Linked DNA regions of Homo sapiens. The protein of the gene in region 3 interacts with the protein of the main gene of each other region in a pairwise test. Each region holds a gene or a part of one and is shown on either strand. Other genes may lie near its edges. The genes, in order: TMEM222, CTXN3 and CLRN1.

Region 1 (3,652 bases), on a different chromosome or scaffold from region 3:
TAGTATTACTGTATAGTGATGATTGCAGAGCTAGGCATAGATGTGGCGCAAGTAACTGTCACCTGTCTTTGGAGGAGAGATCAGAGGAGGAAATGGAACCCAAAGATCTGTCTACCCCCTCAGAGATGTTGGTAATTCTGCATGAAAAACCAGTTTAGTGCTCGCCTCAGCAGCACATATACTAAAATTGGAACGATACAGAGAAGATTAGCATGGCCCCTGCGCAAGGATGACATGCAGATTCGTGAAGCGTTCCATATTTTTGTCTCCCTGGACTTCGAGCAGGAGATGGCCACTACCACATCCTCCTCCCTGGAGAAGAGCTACAAGCTGCCGGATGGCCAGGTCATCACCATCAGCAACAAGCGGTTCCAGTGTCCGGAGGCGCTGTTCCAGCCTTCCTTCCTGGGTATGGAATCTTGCGGCATCCACGAGACCACGTTCAACTCCATCATGAAGTGTGACGTAGACATCCGCAAAGACCTGTACACCAACATAGGGCTATCCAGAGGCACCACCATGTACCCGGGCATCACCGACAGGATGCAGAAGGAGATTAACGCCCTGGCATCCAGCACCATGAAGATCAAGCTCATTGTGCCCCCAGAGTGCAAGTACTCTGTGTGGATCAGCGGCTCCATCCTGGCCTCACTGTCCACCTTCCAGCAGATGTGGATTAGCAAGCAGGAGTATGACGAGTCAGGCCCCTGTATCGTCCACCGCAAATGCTTCTAAATGGACTGCGAGCCGATGCGTAGCATTTGCTGCATGGGTTAATTCAGAAGTATAAATTGGCCCTGGCAAATGCATATACCTCATGCTAGCCTCACGAAAATGGAATAAGCCTTCGAAAAGAAATTGTCGTTGAAGCTTGTATCTAATATCAGCACTGGATTGTAGAACTTGTTGCTGATTTTGACCTTGTATTCAAGTTAACTGTTCCCCTTGGTATTTGTTTAATACCCTGTACATATCTTTGCTTTCAACCCTTAGTACATGTGGCTTGGTCACTGCGTGGCAAGGTAAGAATGTGCTTGTGGAAGACAAGTGCGACTTGGTGAGTCTGCATGGCCAGCAGTCTCCGATCTTTGCAGGGTATTAATATGTCATGGCTGAGTGTTCTGGGATTTCTCTAGAGGCTGACAAGGGCTCCTGAACCAGTTGTTTCTGTCCTGCTGGTCTGTCAGGGTTGGAAAGGCCAAGCCATAGGACCCAGTTTCCTTTCTTAGCTGATGTTTTCCTGCCAGAACACTGTGGGCTGTGACTTGCTTTGAGTTGGAAGCAGTTTGCATTTACACCTGTAAATGTATTCATCCTTTTAATTTATGTAAGGTTTTTTTTTGTATGCAATTCTCGATTCTTTAAGGAGATGAGAACAGATTTTGGTTTTCTACTGTTATGTGAGAACATTAGGCCCCAGCGGCATGTCATTGTGTAAGGAAAAATAAAAGTGCTGCTGTAACCAAAAAAAAGGGAAAAAAAAGAAACTAGTTTAATAGCTGCTGCTACTAATAAAAACAGCTAAGATTAGATGCTTACTCTGTCCTAAACATTGTATGTTCACTCACTCAATCCTAATGTCAACCTATGAAAGTAGATACTGTTGTCACCATTTTATAGATGAGGAAGTAAGGCTTAGAAGCCAGTGTGGTGCTCTTTTGCTGAGTTAGCCTACCTTCCCAGATTGAGCTCCAGGATGAGTGAGTCATTTATTCATTTATTGTATCTTTATAAAGCACCTATTATGTACTAGGTCCTGAATAGAAGGTAGTCCACAAAGCGGCTCTGGAGCTGCCTTCCTGGAGCTTCCAGGCTGACAAACCACTTTGAGGGTTTCTTCTCTGGGGCTTCCAGCCTTTACTCTGATTTCCATCCACTGCTGCCAGCACAGCTGTGGCGTGTGGAATCCTGGTTGGACCCAGACTTCCTCCCAAGCAGATGAAAGGATTAGGGGGCAGAGATGGGGGTGGAGGGCAGTCCTGAGATCAGGATGAGCTACTTTCCCATAATCCTGAATGTCCATCCTGTGGCCTGTGGATCTTCTGCAACTTATTCTATGTTAGTGCAGTCAGTCAGATAGTGCTTATGTATTGAACACCTCGAGATGACAACATTGAGCAGCTGCCAAGCGGAAGGCAGAGTCCTAGGCACTGTGTAAATGGATAAGTCTATCCATTTAATCCTCACAATAGCTCCTCATTAAGGTAATTTTTACTATCCACAGAGAGATGGGAATTAGTAACTTGCCCAGAACAAAGGCAAGCCTCAACCCAGATGATATCTGAGCATGACTTCACTGTTGGCGTTTGTTTGTTGTTTTTAATTTTTATTTATTTATTTATTTAGAGACAGAGTCTTGCTCTGTCACCCAGGCTGGAATGCAGTGGCGTGATCTCAGCTCACTGCATCCTCCGCCTCCGGGGTTCAAGTGATTCTCGTGCCTCAGCCTCTCGAGTAGCTGGGATTACAGGCACATGCCACCATGCCCATCTAATTTTTGTATTTTTAGTATAGACAGGGTTTCGCCATGTTTCCCAGGCTGGTCTCGAACTCCTGACCTCAAGTCATCCACCGGCCTCTGCCTCCCAAAGTGCTGGGATTACAGGCGTGAGCCACTGAGCCCAGCCTTGACTCACTGCAGCCTCAACTTCCTGGGCCCAGCCTTGGCTCACTACAGCCTCAACTTCCTTGGATCAAGTGATCCTCCAGCTAATTTTTAGATTTTTTTAGATACAGGGTCTCACTGTGTTGCCCAGGCTGGTCTCAAATTCCTGGGCTCAAGCAATCCAACTGCCTTGGCCTTCCAAAGTGCTATGATTACAGGCGTGAGCCACAGCACCCAGCCCCAGACTCTACTCTTAAATGCAGGATGTTCATTCATTATTTAGTCAACAAATATTTAGTGAGTTGCAGCTATATACAGGCACTGCCGTAGTAAACAAGAAAAAATCCTGTCTCTCTTGGAGCTTATGTTCTAGTGGAGAGACAGCATATAAATAACCAAGATAATTTTGGATGGTAGTAGATACTATGAGGGAAGTAAAGCATTGTAGTGGGATCTGGGATTGGGTGGCTGTGCTGGAAGACACCGTTCAGGCAAGACCTCCGAAGGTGACAGTGAGGCTGAGGCCTAATCAGTGAGGAGTCAGCTGTGCCATGCTCTCTGGGAAGAGTGTTCCAGACGGAGGAGAGGGCAGATACAGAGAAAGCATGGGGTGGGAGGATTTGGCGTGTTTGAGGCCACAAGCAGGCAGTGTAGCTAGAGAGGGGACTGAGATGAAGTTCAAGGGATAATTAGCACCACAGTGTTGGAAGAAGTTCGAAGTGTATTATAAGTGTAGTAGGAAGCCATTAATAGGTGTTGAACAGGGGAATGATGGAATCTGAGTTCAATTCTCAAAAGACCACTCTGGCCCTACCATTGTCTCAAGCGCTCAAGCTGTAGACCTGGAAGACCCCCATCCTGTCAGTCGTAAACTCTCCAGTCTTCATTTGAAAGATCTTTTGAATCCATGTGTTTCTCACCACCCTGCCCCTGATCCTCTAGTCAGGACCTCCATCATCTCTTGCCAGTGGTACAGCAGTAGCCCCTGAGCTGGCCTCTCCCCCTTTCGTTCTTCCAGGCACATGTACCACTTTCTTGCTCTGCAGT
Region 2 (3,652 bases), on a different chromosome or scaffold from region 3:
CAAAAAAAAATTAATGAGGACACACATGACACAGTACATTTGAAAGAAAAAGAAAATCTTATAATTAATAGGTTAAAGAAGTGTGCTTTTTTTAATCAAAAAAGGTAATGACTAGCTGAGGAGAAAACTAGAAGACATAGATTATAAATACAGCCTAACGGGGTTGGTTTAGGCTGAGTTATCTGCAGGGTTGGTTTAGACACAAGCTTTTCCTTCCAACAAAAGTTGGAATAAGAGGTATTCACATCTCCCTTTTTGGTGGTCTTAAAAACTATCGGTTTTGTCTGTGCAGGACAATTTATAGGAGCTCTTCTTGAAATGGGAGAGGGATGAATTAGATGAGCTTTCATGCTGTTAACTCTTTTCTCCTCTCTTGGAAAAATGTTAAGCCTCAGCACTTAATACCAGGTAGCACCCTCAGTGCATTAGTTCTGGTGAAATAAGAGAGGAAGCATTTCTGTTTCTTGAAAAGTTTTATTTGGTGACTATATACAATCATAAATACACATTCCTCTGAAGACTATAAAAGTCTTCTCCTCTAAACAATTAACTTTTCATTGAAAAAAAACTTTAAGCTGCACTTGCAACCTATTTTTTAAATCATTTGTGTAAAGTGTAAATTCAAGTAATGTATAGCTACCTCTACACATGTTATTAATATGAATACATATAATGTAGTTGGCTTGGTAAATAGTTTTTAAAACTTTGTAGCCTTTGAATTAAGTTTTACTTGAAAAACAAAACGCTATTCTCACTCACATTTACCAAGGACAGAATCATCTCTTTTAAGCTTTTCCATTGCTTCCCAAAGCTCCCTGCTTTGGGAGAAAACAAGAAACTACTTTGGGTCCATTCAGCACAATCTTCCTCATTCTGCTCAGGACCCAGATAGGTGCCCATGAAATAAAACAAATATAGACATAATTAGAGCAAGGAAATCTCTTCCTGGCCTTGTCACCAGATTCATATGAGATCCTTTCTAGTCTTTTATTCTTTAGTCAGATCAGGTGGTGTTTTGTTTGATGGCAAATCTATGTCAGTATTAACGCTCTTGGTTTCACAATCACACAATTTTAAGAGTACTCATTCATTGAGCAAACATAAAAATTTAAACCTTCTTATGTTGGATTAGTTATATAAGTGTCCATTTCCAACATCCTCAAATGTCTTTAACCCAACTGCATATTTATGGAATAATGGATTATGGTCCTGGGACCAAATATTGTTTAAATTTGATTTGTTGAGAACACTAAATAAAGGGAATCCTCACCAAGACACAAAGCACTTCATCTCCTCAGGAGGAGATCCCACACCATCCCTCCTAAGCAAGGGCATGGTCGAACTGCCCTTTCTCCAGGCCTTCAAGTCCATCAGCCCAGGTAGAGGTTGGCATGCTTCGATATGGATCCAAAAGAATCCGGAAGCACCGGACAATGAGAATGCCCAAGAAAATAAACAACAGAATCACAAAAACAAATGTCATTTTCTGCTCCAGGGACATGCTAGAATCTGCTGATTCGTTCCCAAGGGGCACTAGGGATGAGGGGATGGGCTGTCCTCCATCCATGGTCCAGGGAAGCCAGAGCACAGGATATCCTGGTTTTCTTTTCTTCCATCATCAATCTGCGGAGGTCATGGTGGCTGCACTCTGGAGAGGCTGAGTTATCTGCAGGGAAAAAGGAAGGGAAAGGAATACCTATAAAATAGCAGCCTTATTTTTTTAGGTTCACAGTCATATTTTTCAGAGAGAAAAAGAAATCTGTAAACCAGCTTTCTTTTTCACCAGAGATGCTCAATTCTGTATAATTATCGGGAAAGATATTTTACTCTTGCATGAAATTACCAGATTGTTCTCAGAAGAGCCACCTGGGGCCAGGAGGGATGGGCAGGGAATACGACTATAATATAGAAGATGAGAAATGTGCACAGTAATATTGACCTCAGGGTGTACTGTCAACTTGACATCTGAACCCAGCCTCCCCTGCCAAGTCTCCTCCTGCTCTGCTCCACTAATATTACTCTCACATTGTTCTTACGATAGCGCCATTGAGGGAGCCTCAGCTATGTGTCAGCACAGTGGCTAAACTTGAAACATGTTAGCCACTTTACTGCAAGCTTCACGAAAGCAGGGATCTCTTTAGCCCCAGTGCAAGGAAACTGAGGCTAGAAAAGGTGCTTAAAATAGAAACCTTCTCCAGGAGCATTGGGTTCTGGGCTCCGGGCTCCACTCTACTGCAAAACGGGTGTGGGACCTTGGAGAGGTCACTAAGCTGTAAAAATGCAAGTAGCAATGCCTGCATCTTTCATGGTGCTGTAATAAGGATGAAGAGCTGTGAAAACCCTTTGAAAAGTATACAAAAAAGAAAAACAAACAAAGCCAAGTGTTGCTTCACCTAAGACACAACTAAGGGAGCTATGCTGCTTCTCCTTTCCTTTCTACTGCCTGAGCCAAGGGAGAACGGAGGTATCTCAGTCTCCCAAACTATCAAGTTACTGCTGCTTTTTCTTTTTTCCTCAGAAAACAAAGACCAGGTTCAATACTTGACCCTGGGAAGCACCTAGAGAATTAAGCCAAGAGAAAGGAATTGATCGATGCATATTTTCAAAAGGACAGTTTTCCTTAGAGTGGCTTCCTACCATTTAAGACTATTCAGTAGAGAGGAAGAGAAGGAAAAGGACAAGCTAACACTATTTTAATTTTACTGGTGGAAAAACTTAGATATGTAGATATTACTGTATAAATATACAAGTGTATATTACCGTATAAATATACAAGTATATACATGACAAGTATACACAGAGGTCGTTAAAAGCTTCAGATACTGAACGAAATCTACTTAAATCACATCGTAAATAAAAGTATATACATTAGACACTACTACTATATAGAAAATTAAATGATATTTATTATGAATTTATTTATAATAAAAATTACAAAGCACAGTAATTAGCTACGGAAATTAACACGGACACAAAATAAATTTTGCTCAATGAAAATAACCAAATAAAAATAGAATATGTGACCTAAAGCATCAATACAATGTTCCTTCAGTTAACTTATAATCATTGCCTTCAAGTACAGCATTAGTAATCATAGCATAACAGTTTGCATTATATTGACACTTCAAAGTTTGTAAAATTACAGTTTAAAAAACAATTTATAAGGGGGATCCCAGCCAGGATCTGGGAGGAAGGAGTTACCAGTCGGGTAATGCATCATTTTTGCAGCTCTATCACTTTGAATTTTTTTAAAGGCTATAACAGTTGCAAAACTCATTTATAATTCATGTTTGTTTGGAAGTAAGATTGGGATAAAAATTTGACCGCATTTTAAAAAAATAAGCTCTTTAGGAATTTAGAGGATATTAATGCACTGGGTTTTGTTTTGGTTTGCTTGTTTCTAAGCACCCTCCTAGCCTTGGGTATTAATTCCTTGTGGGCCAGGAAGGGAGGGGCAGGAAGGGAGGCCAGAGCCTCCAATGCAGGTCTCCTCAGCACATCAGACCAGGGCCATCTGTGTCCACCAAAAATATTCAAACTATACTTAATCATATGAAATATAAAATTCTCCAAGGGCTGGGCCAAAGGAAAGCCCGCTGATGACAGAGGAGCAGATGCTGAGGCCATCCCTGACATACTCCTTGCTTTTTCA
Region 3 (4,374 bases):
TGCAGTGAGCCGAAAAAACTGGCCACGAAGTGATTGTTACCTTGATAAGTTACCTTTTCCATTCCTCTTACACTGGTAAGATTCTGTGAATTCAAATGTTTGCTTAATAACTTTCTAAAGGCACAATAAGAAAGAAGACATTCTGGGAAATGAATTGTGCACTAATTGTAAGTTGAGCTCTGGAAGAAACAGAAAAGAGTCATCCACCTGAGCTCTCTGGAGGTCCCTGCTTTTTGCTCCAAGGAAGCCACTACTGAGAAAGTAAGGTTAGATCTTTTATTCATTTATATGAACAGGGCTTATACATTTCTATCAGGAAGAATATCAGAGGATTCTCATCCAAGCAAACGTTGATGAAACATCATTGACAGGGTAATGACATTCTGAATGGAAAAAACGTGAACCACAAAGCTGCGTTGCAATGGGAGTGTAAACTTTGAGGGTGCAATGTGTCCCAAAGGCATGTTGATTAGAAAGTTTTAACACTGAGAGGGGTGTTTATTTAAATGAATATTATCCTCTTTGGGGAGTCCATTGGATCTATTTATTTTGGTTTTCCCAACTCTGTCTCATGCTGCATTGAAAAAGATACTTTTATGCTTAGGAAAAAAAAAAAAGCTCTACTGTAAGTATTCTTAGCTGGGCCTCACCAAAATGAATGAGATTTTTAACATGTATAGTATATACAGTACACTTAATATGTATAGTCTATTGTATATTGATGGAGCTGTCACTGCAGAATGAACAAGTAAATGGAAGATTTTCTTCACTAGGCTAGGGGGAGAATGTCAGGGGTATCTGGGAGCTAATGAAATTCTGTGAGATAAGTGAGGGTACTGTTTAAACCCCACCAGTTCTGCAAGTCCTCACAGAAAGCAAAAGGAGGGGCACCCAATTAGAACAACTTCATCCTTAGACAGGACAAGCATAGGACACAACCACAAAAATCATTCGCTAAACCCCAGAAGAATGTGGCTGTGTAAGGATTAAATGAGACAAAGCATATAAAGTGCTTAGTATGTAGTAAGTGTTCAGAAAACATCTTATTATTGTTTTGAAACATGTCCTATGGCATGAGTAAAGTTTATCTCCATTTCACTGTAGAAAATGTAAAGGCTCCAGAAAATTCACCAGTACCTTCTCCGCTTTTGTCTAAATTCATCTGTGAGAAGCTTTACTCACGCTTTGGCTGCCGGTGACTCACGGTTAAATCATCTCTCTCAACTTTTTTCCTTTTCGGTTTTTTAATACAGTTGCATATCACATGACATTCTGCTTTGTTTTCTTCCTTCCCCTTCCCCAGGAAAACTAAGCAACTCTAACAGCCCCATTACCTTAATGAATAAAAGCCATTCAGTGAAAAGAACTGGTATCCACTTCATCAATTAAAAAGCTAACAACCAATTCTTGGAAATTTTCTGGAGCCCTATGAAAATTCATATCACTTAGTAACCTATGTGAGCTGAAGGTTGGTGTCCAATGACTGCTAAGAAGATATAAGGAATGTTGCAGAAATATAAATAGACCAGCACTGAAATTTAATTAGGCACTGCATATGTTAATAATAAATTCAATTAATTTAGCCTTCTACCTATACTAGAAAGAAAAAAAAAACCTGGGCAAAATAATAATTCATTTTAAATGCTTCAGTTGGTAACCTCCTTTCCTGAAGAGTGATTTATGCAGTAATTTACTGACTGTGTCTTCATAAGGTTGTTCCAAACCAGCCCTTCTGAAATAATAATAACTTCTGAATGTGTGTTGTAAGAGATATAACAAATGACTTCCTATTAATTTTCATTTAATGAGTTGCCTATTCACATGGTAATTTTTAAAAATTCTCTTCTTAAGATAAACAGGTTATAAATACTGTGGATTACACTTCCATTTCACAAAAATCACAACAAGAAAATCTCTCTCATATTCTCTACATGATTTGCAGGTCAATCAGTTTAAAATGTTCTATACTAAATAGGCATCCATTTCTTTCCCAGTTAGCACAGCAGATCATTTTAAATTTCTATAGCCAAATGATTCCAAATTAGTTAAAAATGAAAACTGAATATTTAGCAGCAGGAAAGGTCTTAGCAGGAATAATGGGAGGGAGTGGGGAGCAGGAAACAAAATCATGAGAAAGGTGGCAACCTGGTTAAATACGGAGCCCATGACCTTGGTTCTTTTTATAAAGAACAAAAAGCATAAAGATCATTCTTTACAGCTTTCCTATTTCCCCAAGTTTACTTTTTTAAAAAGACTCCATAATTTTTTACATAAATATTAATACTTAAGCATCTTAATTGCCAATATTTCCAAAAACCTTAATTATGTAACAATGAATTAACTCTATATTATAATAAAAAGCAAGTATAAAATAATAAAAACTAGGAAGAAGAAATTGCTCAGAGTCATAGGTTTTTCATATGGTTCACACCGATTTAAAAAGTCCTGCAGTAAACACGGCAAAATTCTCAAATATAATTCCTCGCAACACTGGGAAGAGTCTGCCTAAAGCATTAAATAACTCAAATGCAATTGCTACTTACATGAGAACCGAAAGGGCCTTGCTCCCAACCCACACTGCCTCACACCCTCTCCGTGGAAAAGCCCGTACTGCATTTCACCCATAAACTTGTCCAGCTCCTGCCCTGAGGCATTGACGAGCAGAGCTCCCGTTTTGCAGAGGACAGTGGCTTTGATCCACAACGGTGTCCCCAAGGCTGTCACAACTCCGAGGGCACATGCAAAACTGAACACTCCGGCCATGCAAAAAATGATTTTCTTCTGTTGGCTTGGCATGATGAGAAACGGCTTCTGTGAGGGCGAGGTTCAAAAACAAGACCTTTGTGAGCAATGGGAAGGGACTGCCTCTTTGACTGCATTTATTACGGAAGCTGAACGGACAGCTCCCAGCTGAAAAGGCAACTTCACCATCGACGGTTCTCGCCAGGTTAAATGTCAGTAGATGAAGGCCTCATCATCACTCATACTTGGCTTTTCTCCTTTTCTGCTGCTTCTTCTCCCTAATTGGAAATCTTTGGACTAAGAATCTGTAAAACAAGTCTTTCAAACTGCCTTCAAGTATCTCCTCTGTGTCACTTGGTAACAAAGGTCGAAGATAACAGATGGAGTCCTCAGTGTAACTTGATAAATGTTTCCCTTCCTCAGCCTTTTGTCTGATTGGGTGAGTTGAAACTTTCAGAAACAGGCTTGAATCTGATGGTACATTTTCAGCAACTTGAGAAGTTCACTTATCGATGTTTTTATTTTTGTTTTTTGTTTGTTATTGTTTTTGGTGGTGGGGGAAGGAGCTTTAGCAGAGGTAGGGAGAACATATGTACCTGTATTGATAGTTGATGTCAAAAATTTTTAATTACAGCAGGATAAAAATATTAAACAGAATTTGGTCCTACACGAATATTAAGTGCTCTGGATCAACCATGGGTCCTTGTCCTTCCAACTTAATTTCTCCCAGATCCATGGTTTATACCTAATGTATCAATAGAGAATTTGATTCAAATTTTTCTTGGCATACAGAAATATGAAAATGCAGGAGCAGATATCTAGATTTCTAAATGCTTTCCTTTAACAGGCTTAGCTGCTTTAGGATAATAGCAAGGGAATGTGTTTCTGGGTCCAAGGAATACCAGGATCTGTAAAGATAAGGGCATATTGATGGAAAGAGGGATGGTGGTCAGATAGGTGACTCTATGGATTCATCATAAAAATGCACAGGTCTCAGCAAAGGTAATCTGTTTGGGAGACTAGAGACAGTTATGAGCAAAGATTAAGCAGCAGGTAGGTCTGGTTAAACGGTCAAGACCTGGAAACTAAAGTTCAGAATTCAGTAACAGCTTTTTAACTTTGCATTTCCAATGAGATTCCTCCTTCTACAGACACAGGACTGTGTGTGTGTGTGTGTGTGTGTGTGTGTGTGTGTGTGTGTGTGTGAAGTGTCTAGTGAATGTTTATTATATGCCATGTTATTGTCCTGAGCTCTGACCTACAAAGTTAATGTTTAGTAAGAACTTATGTCTGGCAACTTGTGAAGTATTCTACCTAAATTATCATATGTAATTCTCATAATTAGCATATAAAGTAATGAAGAAGAGGAAGAAGAAGAGGAGGGAGGAGGAGAAGAAGGAGGAGGAGGAGGAGAAAGGAAGAAGGAAGAAGAATAAGAAAGAAGAAAGAAGAAGAAAAAGCAATTATTCGTATCTTATATATAAGGGAATTGAGGCTCAGAGAGTTTAAGCAACTTGCTGAAGAGAGTAGTGGAGCTGGGATTCAAATCCAGGTCTTCTACTTCTGAGGTTGATGTTCTATTCCAAGCAAAGCCCCTGACCTTGAAAAGATGGCAAACATTTCAGTTTGGGT

The links.
Region 1: the proteins of CLRN1 (region 3) and TMEM222 interact in binary tests that used the Homo sapiens proteins (3 or more experiments, as listed by UniProt).
Region 2: the proteins of CLRN1 (region 3) and CTXN3 interact in binary tests that used the Homo sapiens proteins (3 or more experiments, as listed by UniProt).

Annotation. Positions count from the first base shown.
Region 1 is NC_000001.11:27,325,062-27,328,713, forward strand, and holds part of TMEM222 (transmembrane protein 222), read left to right. Parts: exon of another isoform or gene 1-1,464; intron 1,465-3,652.
Region 2 is NC_000005.10:127,655,437-127,659,088, reverse strand, and holds the end of CTXN3 (cortexin-3), read right to left. Parts: intron 1,667-3,652; 5' UTR 1,568-1,666; coding exon 1,322-1,567; 3' UTR 459-1,321; downstream 1-458.
Region 3 is NC_000003.12:150,969,913-150,974,286, forward strand, and holds the start of CLRN1 (clarin-1), read right to left. Parts: upstream 2,816-4,374; 5' UTR 2,797-2,815; coding exon 2,544-2,796; intron 1-2,543. UniProt on the Homo sapiens protein: May have a role in the excitatory ribbon synapse junctions between hair cells and cochlear ganglion cells and presumably also in analogous synapses within the retina.